Linked DNA regions of Homo sapiens. The protein of the gene in region 2 interacts with the protein of the main gene of each other region in a pairwise test. Each region holds a gene or a part of one and is shown on either strand. Other genes may lie near its edges.

The links.
Region 1: the proteins of ODAD1 (region 2) and TPM3 interact in a two-hybrid assay, tested with the Homo sapiens proteins (one large-scale study listed by BioGRID).
Region 3: the proteins of ODAD1 (region 2) and TXN2 interact in binary tests that used the Homo sapiens proteins (3 or more experiments, as listed by UniProt).

What each region holds. Positions count from the first base shown.
Region 1 is NC_000001.11:154,189,269-154,193,541, reverse strand, and holds the start of TPM3 (tropomyosin alpha-3 chain), read left to right. Parts: upstream 1-1,441; 5' UTR 1,442-1,523; coding exon 1,524-1,640; intron 1,641-1,808; exon of another isoform or gene 1,809-1,913; intron 1,914-2,230; coding exon 2,231-2,356; intron 2,357-4,273. UniProt on the Homo sapiens protein: Binds to actin filaments in muscle and non-muscle cells. Plays a central role, in association with the troponin complex, in the calcium dependent regulation of vertebrate striated muscle contraction.
Region 2 is NC_000019.10:48,311,929-48,315,576, forward strand, and holds part of ODAD1 (outer dynein arm-docking complex subunit 1), read right to left. Parts: intron 189-3,648; coding exon 66-188; intron 1-65. UniProt on the Homo sapiens protein: Component of the outer dynein arm-docking complex (ODA-DC) that mediates outer dynein arms (ODA) binding onto the doublet microtubule. Involved in mediating assembly of both ODAs and their axonemal docking complex onto ciliary microtubules.
Region 3 is NC_000022.11:36,474,997-36,478,644, reverse strand, and holds part of TXN2 (thioredoxin, mitochondrial precursor), read left to right. Parts: intron 1-1,788; coding exon 1,789-1,912; intron 1,913-3,648.

The DNA.
Region 1 (4,273 bases), on a different chromosome or scaffold from region 2:
AACCTAAGAGGGCTGGTGTGGGAATGGGAGAGAGTTGGAATTTGAGGATAGAATCTTTCTATTTCTTGTCCCCTTATACTAGAAGGGACATTTCTTTGCCTTTTCTTGTCCTCGTATTTTTCTCCCCCTTATTCACTTGCCCACCCCCCCCCCATTTTCCACTCCTTCCTCTCCCTGTTCCCTAACCCCTTTCCCTGGCTAATCTCCAGAGAAAGGAGACTTGGTTTCTCCTCTCTCTGTCGAGAGTCAGCTGATGGTCTATCTGCCTATCTACCTCTAGTGACTGGAAGCTCTCAATAGTGGACTCCAGCTCTGCTCTACCCACTGGCCTGGTGGGTGTCTCCGTTCCCCCATTGCTGGGGCTTAGCATTAACTCTCAGTATCCTGACATAAATGACTAACTAGAGCCATTTATATTTGTCCAATATATCTGGTCACCTTGAACAGTGCCCACCTCTCCCTTGGCATATTTTCAGGTGTATGGTGCCAGTGGACTGGTATCCTTGCCACCTGTTAGTAACAAGGCTCCCAATGGAAGAATAAACATGGTCTGGAACTAAACTGGAAAGAATAGAGCTGATAATGATGATTACGATGATGTGGTGAGTGGCAGCGTTGGGGAGAATTAAGAAGGGAGAAGATAAAGGGAAGAAGAGGAGAGAGCCACACAGACCAAAGTCTGTGTGGGTACAACAGTTCTATTTTAAGATTACTGTGGGAAAACAAAGGGTATGATCCTGTCTGGATTGTTCTGACCCTCCCCTGTTTCTCTCCCCACCCCACTTGAAGCTCTGGGATAGCCTTCAAGGATAGGGTTGGAGATTCCAACCCTACCTCTTACTCTACTCTTGTGGCTCTTGGTGGGGAGGAAAAACGTCTCCCTGCCAATCGGAGACTCCCAGAATAGCACAGCAATTTGATCTGGGGATCTGGGAGAATTGTTAAGGATCATGAGTGACCTCCCCTCTTCCCTGTGCCCAAGCTCCTTGAATACCAGGAATCAAAAGCTAAAACTCAACTAACGGAGTTTGACCAGCATTCAACACAGTCTGGGGGAGAGTGAAACGGGAAGCTGAAAGGCAACCAGGACCCCCTGGATGCAAACTGCCAACCTAGAATTGCCAAAGTACACTTCTCTATTTCAATGTTCTTCCCTCCCCTCTTCCTCTTCTTTTAAAACATCCATAGAGCTGCCCAGAATGAGTGGAAAGTTTCAGGGTCAGGGAGAACCTCTTCCCTCCCCCACTTTCCATTGTCTAAAATCAGCCTCAGCTGTTGCTAGATATTTTTTTTGCTGGTGATGTCAGTTCATCAAAGCGTCTCACCCTGTGTTCCCCCAGGAGAACAATGATGGGGTGGAGGGAGCTGGAAAGACCATATTAGGAACAAAAGGTGGAGCTATGAGCACAGATAAAGACTCAAGTCTGGGGACCTCCTGGTCACTCAGGCAGCAGCCCCTTCTTTCTTGCCCCAGTCTCCAGTTCTCCAGTGTTCACAGGTGAGCCTACCAACAGCCACTGCTCATGATGGAGGCCATCAAGAAAAAGATGCAGATGCTGAAGTTAGACAAGGAGAATGCTCTGGATCGGGCAGAGCAAGCTGAAGCTGAGCAGAAGCAGGCAGAAGAAAGAAGTAAACAGGTAGGCACTGGCATTGATCTCTCTCATCTGCTAGTGAACAAGACTGTGAAATGGAAGGGAGTTTTCATGGGAAAGACAGTGACTACTGGTGTCACCTCCTTTTTGGGGGTGGGATGGACTCCCCAGCCTCACTGGAGGAGCAGAGGATATCTAACATATCTGTCTCAGACTGCCTTTGTGACCTTGGGAAAGTCAGTGAGCCACAGTATGTCTGCTGAATTTAAGTAGAAATGGACCATGTTTTGGAAGAACCCTTGACTTCTAGAGGAAAAGGTAAGAGTTCTAGAGGGAAAGAGCATCTCTTTTCACTCAAATAGCATCACGGGCATCTACACTTTAGATATTTATCATCCAGGGGTCTTGGATGAAAACCCAGGATGGCTTGGTCATCTTAGGATCAGAGATTACAGGGTCACAGGCCAAGCTACGGCATAACTCCTGAGGCAGTGGGCTGGAAGTGGCTGGGGAGAAAGTGTGTCTCACTAGGGATGGTAACATGGAGGTTACACTCAGGGCTCCAAGAGCCCAGGGTCCAACCCTGCATTGTTGTGTTTGTGTGTTTTTGTGTGTGACTCTCTGGGCTCCTATAGCTGGAGGATGAGCTGGCAGCCATGCAGAAGAAGCTGAAAGGGACAGAGGATGAGCTGGACAAGTATTCTGAAGCTTTGAAGGATGCCCAGGAGAAGCTGGAACTGGCAGAGAAGAAGGCTGCTGATGTGAGTATTAGAGAGATGGAGGATGGGTTTAATCTACACATATAGATCTTTATGTTAATGTATGACGAAATTCCAAACACACTTGTGGGTTCATGGAACACAGACATATATACTCACATACATTTTTGCATATAACCACATGCTGGTATATTCTCATAATGGCATGTATTTTCTTTCTTAAAGACATCTCCAACATGTTAAAAGTTTTTTTTTAATACATGTAAAGGTCTCATTTATCTCCTATCACCAACCCAGGAATTTAATTATCTTTCCCAGGACCTGGACAAAGAGAGGGGACTCTAAGTTCAGAATGCTGTCACTTATCCTACCTCCTCCCCCATGCCACATTCTTAGCTTTTATGTCCAAGTCTTGGCATGTGGATATGTGTATTAATAGGGAACCTCTCATCTCTCAACTGTCCAACAAAACCAGCTCGGATTTCACAATGGGAAATGGAGGTCACACTGACCCTGGCCATATATGGGTTTATTTATCTTGGCCAATGCAGGCATTTGCCTTTATGCCATGGAGATGCCATATGAAGCATTGCTCCTAGGGCAGCAGAGAGATCCCTACAGTGACAGAGTATAATAGAAACTAAGAAAGAATCTTAGGGGGTAAAGGTATCACCACCAGACTTCACTCTATGACCGTGAGTAATTACTCAGCTTGTCTAGGGCTGAATTTTCCCATTCTCAAATAAAATAAATTCTCTTTTCCATCTCATATTATCCCATCATCATCACCTACTTTCCTTCATCTTTAACCTTGAAGTTTGCTGCAAAGATAAATGAGAGAGTAGATTGAAAAGTTTTTTAGAAGAAAAGTACCATAGGAATCTTACCAACAACAACAGAAATGTCCCAGTATTGGTGGAAACAAGTTTCTCAGTGAACTGAGTTAATAGGAAAAAAGGAGCATGTAATATTTAAAATCATATTTGGGCTGGGTGCGGTGGCTCACGCCTGTAATCCCAGCACTTTGGAAGGCCGAGGCGGGTGGATCACCTGAGGTCAAGAGTTTGAGACCAGCCTGGCCAACATGGTGAAACCCTGTCTCTAGTAAAAATACAAAAATTAGCCAGGTGTGGTGGCGGGTGCCTGTAATCCCAGCTACTCAGGAGGCTGAGGCAGGAGAATCGCTTGAACCCAGGAGGCGGAGGCTGCATGGAGCCGAGATCGTACCACTGCACTCTAGCCTGGGCAACAGAGAGAGACTCTGTCTCAAAAAATAAGTCAATAAAATAAAATCACATTTGGTTTTGGAAAATAGCTAGAAGGACAGACAGAGTGAACCATTCATAAATGCTTTCGGATCCTCATATTTGGTCTCTCTGCCATCCGGTTTCTTTCCTTTTCTTTTCCTTTTTTTTTTTTTTTTTTTTTTGAGACAGGGTTTCACTCTTGTTGCCCAGGCTGTAATAAAATGGTACTATCTCGGCTCACTGCCATCTCCACCTCCCAGGTTGAAGCGATTCTCCTATCTCAGCCTCCTGAGTAACTGGGATTACAGGCACGTGCCACCATGCCTGGCTGGCTAATTTTCATATTTTTACTAGAGACGGGGTTTCATCATATTGGTCAGGCTTGTCTTGAACTCCTGACCTCAGGTGATCCGCCTGCCTCGGCCTCCCAAAGTGCTGGGATTACAGGCGTGAGCCACCCCGCCCAGCCAGGTTTCTTTTTATTGTTGTTGTTGAGATGGAGTCTCGCTCTGTTGCCCAGGCTGGAGTGCAGTGGCACAATCTAGGCTCACTGCAAGCTGTGCCTCCTGGATTCAAGCCATTCTCCTGCCTCAGCCTTCCGAGTAGCTGGGATTGCAGGTGTGTGCCACCATACCCAACTAATTTTTGTATTTTTTTTTTAGTAAAGATGGGGTTTCGCCATGTTGGCCATGCTGGTCTCGAACTCCTAACC
Region 2 (3,648 bases):
GACCATGCCCAGTTCTTCCCATAACCGCACAATTCAGGTCGAGGGACCAGGAGTTTGACCCTCACCCTGTCCAACTGGTTTTCTAGGATCCTGATCCTTCGCCTGATCTTGACCTTCTGATCCAGGATGAATCCCGGGGACCTGACATTCTTACTGTGGGTAAAGATCCGCGTCTCCCACTCCTGGATCTACAAGAAAGAGGATGGTACCTGTTTTTGGTTGCCTGAATGTGGGAGAGATTGAATGGCCCAGGGAAAATGAGTCACTAAGCATGGCAAACATCTGCTGTCCCTGTCACCCCAGAATAACATCTACCCTTCTGCTGACACTATCCAGCCCTCCATGTGGTTCTGGTGGGCCTTCCAACCACAGTGTATCACCCTATCAGCCACATGACCCAGGTCTGGACACTCACAGGGATTGGCCTAGAGATGGGAATGTGACCCCATGGAGCTAGCCTGACTCCTTTCCGTTTTTTTTTTTGTTTTTTTTTTTTTTTTTTTTGAGACAGAGTCTTGCTCTGTCTCCCAGGCTGGAGTGTGCAGTGGCGCGATCTTGGCTCACTGCAACCTCCACCTCCCAGGCTCGAGCAATTCTAGTGCCTCAACCTCCCGAGTAGCTGGGATTACAGGCACGTACCACCACACCCAGCTAATTTTTGTATTTTTAGTAGAGATGGGGTTTCACCATGTTGGCCAGGCTGATCTTGAACTCCTGACCTCAAGTGATCCACCCGCCTTGGCCTCCCAAAGTGCTGGGATTACAGGCAAGAGCCACTGCACCCGGCCCTGACTCCTTTCCTGATAGTCTGGGGGAAGCACATGAGATGGAAGGATGGGATTCCAGGACTTCTCCTGTCATGGCCCCACCACAGGGAGGGTCCTGGGAGAATGAGGCCAGTGGACAGAAGTGGAGATGAGAGTCGGAGAGACGGTGAGAATGAACTTGATGACATTAGTAGCCCTGGGTCTGCTTATGCCTAAGACCAGCTTCCAATCTGTCCTCATTTCTGTATTCATCTGTACTTATTGGGGTGTGCTCTGTCTCTCCCAGCAAACTGGGGGTTCCATGAGGACACAGAGTCTTGTGTTTTCTCCCTGTCCGAGACAAAGAAGGTATTCAACATAACATGCAGACTAAATAGATAAATGAATTGCTCAACACTTCAATTTGTGCTCTGTTATGGGTTGAATCATGTCCCATAAAAACTCATATGTTGGCCGGGCACGGTGGCTCACACCTGTAATCCCAGCACTCTGGGAGGCAGAGGTGGGTGAATCAGCTGAGGTCAGGAGTTCAAGACCACCCTGGCCAACATGGCGAAACCCCACCTCTACTAAAATACAAAAATTAGCAAGGCGTGGTGGCAGGCACCTGTAATCCCAGCTACTCGGGAGGCTGAGGCAGGAGAATTGCTTGAACCCAGGAGGAGAGGTTGCAGTGAGCTGAGATTGTGCCACTGCACTCCAGCCTGGGGAACAGAACAAGACTCCATCTCAAAAAAAAAAAAAAAAAAAACCAAAAAAAAACCTCACATGTTGAAGTCTTAACCCCCAGTACTTTAGAATGTGACCTTATTTGGAGACAGAGTCTTCATAGAAGTAATTAAAATGAGGTAATTAAGGTGGGCCCTAATCCACTACGACGAGGTGTTCTTAGAAAAATGGGAAATTGCTGGGTGTGGTGGCTCATGCCTGTAATCCCAATACTTTGGAAGGCTGAGGCAGGATGATCTCTCGAAGCCAGGAGTTCAAGACCAGCCTGGGCCACAAAGCAAGACCCCATCTCTACAAGATACAAAATAAATTAGCTGGGCATGGTGGTGCACACCTGTAGTCCTAGCTACTTGGGAAGCTGAGGTGGCAGATCCCTTGAGACAAGGAGCTCGAAGCTGCAGTGAGCTGTGATTGAGCCACTGTACTCCAGCCTGGGTGACAGAGGGAGATCCTGTCTCAAAACAAAACAAAACAAAAAAGGAAATTTGGACATAGATACGCACACAGGGAGAATGCCACGTAAGGATAAAGACAGAGGTCAGGTGTGGTGGCTCACGCCTGTAATCCCAACACTTTCGGAGGCTGAGATGGGTGGATAACTTGAGGTCAGGAGTTCGAGACCAGCCTGGCCAACATGGCGAAACCCCATCTCTACTAAACATACAAAAATTAGCCAGGTGTGGTGGCACATGCCTGTAATCCCAGCTACTTGGGAGGCTGAGGCAGGAGAATCGCTTGAACCCAGGGGGTGGAGGCTGCAGTGAGCTGAGAGATTGGGTGACATGTCTACAAGCCAAAGTACCCAAGACTGCCAGCAAACCGGCAGAAGCAGAGAGAGAGAGGCATGGAACAGACAGATTCTCCCCCACACTGCTCAGAAGGAACCAAACCTGCCTACATCTTGATCTTGGACTTCTGGCCTTTGGAACTATGAGAAAACATATTTTTGTTATACGAGCCACCCAATTTGTGGAACTTTGTCATAGCAGCCCTAACAAACTAATCCACGTACCAAAGATACCCCAGAAGGCTGCAGCAAACTTAAGACTCAGCATGAGGATGTTTTAAATTTTTGAGGAAGACCTTGATATTGGTCAGATACCACATGAACTGCTAGCTTAAGGCAGTTCACAAGTTCAACATGAGAGGGCGCTATCATCCTTTTGAAGATGTCACATCTTTGTGAGACTGGATTTTCAGCAGTTGCTGCAATAAAAGCCAAATACCCAATTGTTGGTGGGCGCAGTGTCTCACGCCTGTAATCCCAGCACTTTGAGAGGCCGAGGCGAGTGGATCACCTGAGGTCAGGAGTTTGAGACCAGCCTGGCCAAAATGGTGAAACCCCATCTCTACTAAAAATACAAAAATTAGCTGGGCGTAATGGCACGTGACTGTAATCCCAGCTACTCGGGTGGCTGAAGCACGAGAATCACTTGAGCCTGGCCTGGGAGGTGGAGGCTGCAATGAGCCGAGATTGCACCACTGCACTCCAGCCTGGGTGACTGAGCGAGACTCCACCTCAAAAAAGAAAAGAAAAAGAAATGTCCAAAATGTTGACACTGGGGGAAAATGCAGCAAAGTGTACAAGGGATGTCTCTGCATTATTTCTTTCAACTGCACATGAATCCCAACAAAATTTTCTTTCTTTCTTTTATTTTTTCTTTTTTTTAGAGACAGGGTCTCACTCTGTCACCCAGGCCGAGTGCAGTGGCACCATCATAGCTCACTGCAGCCTCCACCTCCCAGGCCAGGCTCAAGCAATCCTCCTGCCTCAGTAATTGCTTTATGAAAGAAGAGATGACATACGGTAAAACTGCACATATTTAGTGTTCAATGTGGGATGGGCACGGTGGCTCACGCCTGTAATCCCAGCACTTTGGGAGGCTGAGGTGGGCAGATCCCCTGAGGTCAGGAGTTCGAGACCAGCCTGGCCAACATGGCGAAACCCCGTCTCTACTAAAAATACAAAATTAGCCAGGCATCGTGGCAGGCACCCGTAGTCCCAACTACCCAGGAGGCTGAGGCAGAAGAGTTGCTTGAACCCAGGAGGTGGAGATTGCAGTGAGCTGAGACTGCGCCACTGCACTCCAGCCTGGGTGACAGAGCGAGACTCCATCTCTAAATAAATAAATAAACTGTGTAATTGTTATGT
Region 3 (3,648 bases), on a different chromosome or scaffold from region 2:
GTGCGGTGTGCACCACCACACCTGCTACTCAGGAGGCTGAGGCAGGAGAATTGCTTGAACCCGGGAGGCGGAAGTTGCAGTGAGCCGAGATCGCGCCATTGCACTCCAGCCTGGGCAACAGAGTGAGACTCCATCTCAAAAATAAATAAGTAAGTGCTGAGAATAAAATAGGAGTTGTCAGCCAGGGGTTTGTGAAAGGTGGAACTGTCTTGGCCTCCTGGTGTAGTGAGCATTCCAGAGAGGCCTTCCGAAATGAACAATAAATGGGATAATGCCTCATTTTGTTCAGTAAGGAAGTGGGGTGGTGTGAGTTGTTCATTCAGTGCCAGGCACTTTCCTTGGTGCCACATACATAGAGATGACAGCACCAGGCCTGTCCTGGATGAGCTTCCCCAGCGAGAGGGGAATACCTATGATCAGGGCAGTGATAATGGTCAACTCAGGGGCTGTGGGATCAGAGTAGCCTGTGGGTGAAATAAAACACTTTCTCTTTTTTTTTTTTTTTTTTTTTTGAGACAGAGTCTCTGTCGCCCAGGCTGGAGTGCAGTGGCACAATCTCAGCTCACTTCAACCTCTGCCTCCCAGGTTAAAGTGATTCTCCTGCCTCAGCCTTCCTAGAAGCTGGGATTACAGGCGCACACCACCACTCCTGGCTAATCTTTGTATTTTTAGTAGAGACGAGGTTTTACCATGTTGGCCAGGCTGATCTTGAACTCCTGACCTCAGGTGATCCGCCTGCCTCGGCCTCCCAAAGTGCTGGAATTATAGGCGTGGGTCACCGCACCCGGCCAAAGAAAACACTTTCAACACAGCTTTGGGTTGTGATCGATCCCAGCTGTGCTTCTCTAATCTTGCACAGGTTTCTTAACTCGTATGGGCTTCAGTTTCTTTGGAAGGTGTGTTCTCTTTGCAGAGTTGAGGGGTGTGTTTGGTAAAAGCAGAGAAAGTGAGCCAGGGACTGGTGCGTTGTAGACGCTCCAGGCCATTGGTTCCCCTCCTTTTAGTTCTGAGTCCACATGGTGTTTGAAATATCCCCACAGCTTCCAATGCATGTTTACCCACATTGCCTTAGTTGATCTCTCCTAATAGCTTTGAGAGCCATAATCTCTCTTTTTCAGATGAAGAAACTAGGGCCCAGGCCGGGCGCGGTGGCTCATGCCTGTAATCCCAGCACTTTGGGAGGCCGAGACAGGCGGATCACGAGGTCAGGAGATCGAGACCATCCTGGCTAACACGGTGAAACCCCGTCTCTACTAAAAAATACAAAAAATTAGCTGGGCGTGTTGGCAGGCACCTGTAGTCCCAGCTACTGAGGAAGCTGAGGCAGGAGAATGGCGTAAACCAGGGAGGCGGAGCTTGCAGTGAGCCGAGATCGCGCCACTGCACTCCAGCCTGGGGGATAGAGCGAGACTCCGTCTCAAAAAAAGAAAAAAAGGAAACTAGGGCCCCAGAATAATCAGCTGGTTGGTGAGAAGCCTCTGTTTGAACCTTTTAACTTCCAATCCCATATCCTTTTATATGACAGTATATTTATCTGAGATATACTGAAATGAGTCACTTTTATTATGAGTCTTCTGATGAGGCCTGTGTTTTAAAAGTCTGGGATCTGTGAAGATTTCCCATGTGCAGAATCTCCTGGCATTACCATTTGGTGTGTTAATTTTTAAACATGGTAAACAGAGATAATAAGGGCAAAAGATTCCTTGGAAAGATGCAGGTCTGGGAAGCCAGTAGGGGATGCTGAGCGCTCTTTTGACTGACTGGATGCTTCCTTTCTCGCCTTTTGAGGTGGTGTGGACCCTGCAAGATCCTGGGGCCGAGGTTAGAGAAGATGGTGGCCAAGCAGCACGGGAAGGTGGTGATGGCCAAGGTGGATATTGATGACCACACAGACCTCGCCATTGAGTATGAGGTATGGATTGACAGGGAGTTGCCACAGGGAAGCCAGTATAGGAGGTGTCAGGCCCAGGGATAGCTGGTGTAGGAGGTATCTTGGGGAGCACAGGTAGCCAGTAAGCAAGGTGTCTTGGTTTTTCCAGAGCTTTTTTTTTTTGAGACGGAATCTCTCACTGTCACCTGGGCTAGAGTGCAATGGCATGATCTCGGCTCATTGCAACCTCTGCCTCCCGGGTTCACGCGATTCTCCTGCCTCAGCCTCCCAAGTAGCTGGGACTACAGGCGCACACCACCACGCCCAGCTAATTTTTTGTATTTTTAGTAGAGACAGGGTATCACCATGTTGGCCAGACTGGTCTGGAACTCCTGACCTTATGATCCACCCACCTTGGCCTCCCAAAGTGCTGGGATTACAGGCATGAGCCACTGCGCCCAGCCGGTTTTTCGAGAGCTTTTAAGAGCTCAGAGCACTTTGCAGAGGTGGCTCTTGATCCTCTGAGCCACCTGTCTCTCTTCACCACCTTTAGGAAGTAGATCGTATGACCCAAAAACACCAGGTCATTCACTTAGTCTCAGACATTGGTACATTCCTTTATCCATCTACCCACATGTTCAGTGAGCAGTCATTTGGGAGCTCGATGTGCCAAGCATTTGTGATTCTGACACAAGATGAGATCTTGTTTCCAAGCAAGATCTCTCCTAGTCTAGCAGGAGAGAACAGCAGGTAGAAAGATCATCTCAATATAGAAGTGCTAAAAGAAGAGGCGCATAAAGGAAGAAGGGACTGTTTGCTTGTGGGGGAGCTGGAGGGGACAGGGAATGCTTCACGTTAGAGAGAACCTCTGAGCTGAGCCATGAGGGATGCGCAGAGGAGGAGGAAGGGCTGAGGAAACAGCGTGCACAAAGACATGGAGTCGTCTCACTTGGTTGGTTGGTTTGTCTGTTTATTCAGCAGATATTTGAGAGTCCCTCAAGTGCCAGGTAGTGTTACTTGGTGTTGAGGATAAGGCAGTGAACAAAACTGACAAAATCTCTGCCTCCGTGGAGTCTACATTCTAGTATTTTAAATCAAGGGTCAGCAAACTTTTTCTCTAAAGGACTGGTTGGTATTGGAAGCATTGCAGGGCAGTGGTCGCTGCTACAACCATTCAGCTGGGCTCGTAGCCGAAAGCAGCCATAGACACTATACAAACAAATGGGCATGGCTGTGTTACAATAAAACTTTATTTACAAAAACAAGCAGTAGGCTGTATTGGGCCTGTGAACTATAGTTTGCTGACCCCTGTTTTAGATAATAAGTTCAATGGAGAAAAATACATCAGGAAGAGAGGATGGGAGTACTGCGTATGAGGCAGGGTTTTTGTTTTTTCGAGACAGAGTTTTGCTCTTGTTGCCCAAGCTGGAGTGCAGTGGCACAATCTCGGCTCACTGCAACCTCTGCCTCCCGGGTTCAAGCAGTTCTCCTGTCCCAGCCTCCGGAGTAGCTGAGATTACAGGCACGCGCCACCACGCCGGCTAATTTTTTGTATTTTTAGTAGAAATGAGGTTTCACCATGTTAGCCAGGCTGGTCTTGATCTCCTGACCTCGGGTGACCCACCTGCCTTGGCCTCCCAAAGTGCTGGGATTACAGGCGTAAGCCACCGCGCCCAGCGGGTTTCTTTTTTAAAGGGTGGGATAGGGTAGATCTCCCTGATAAGCTGACCTTTGGGCAAAAACAGGAAGGGAGTGACTGAAGCATGTGGGTCTTTGGA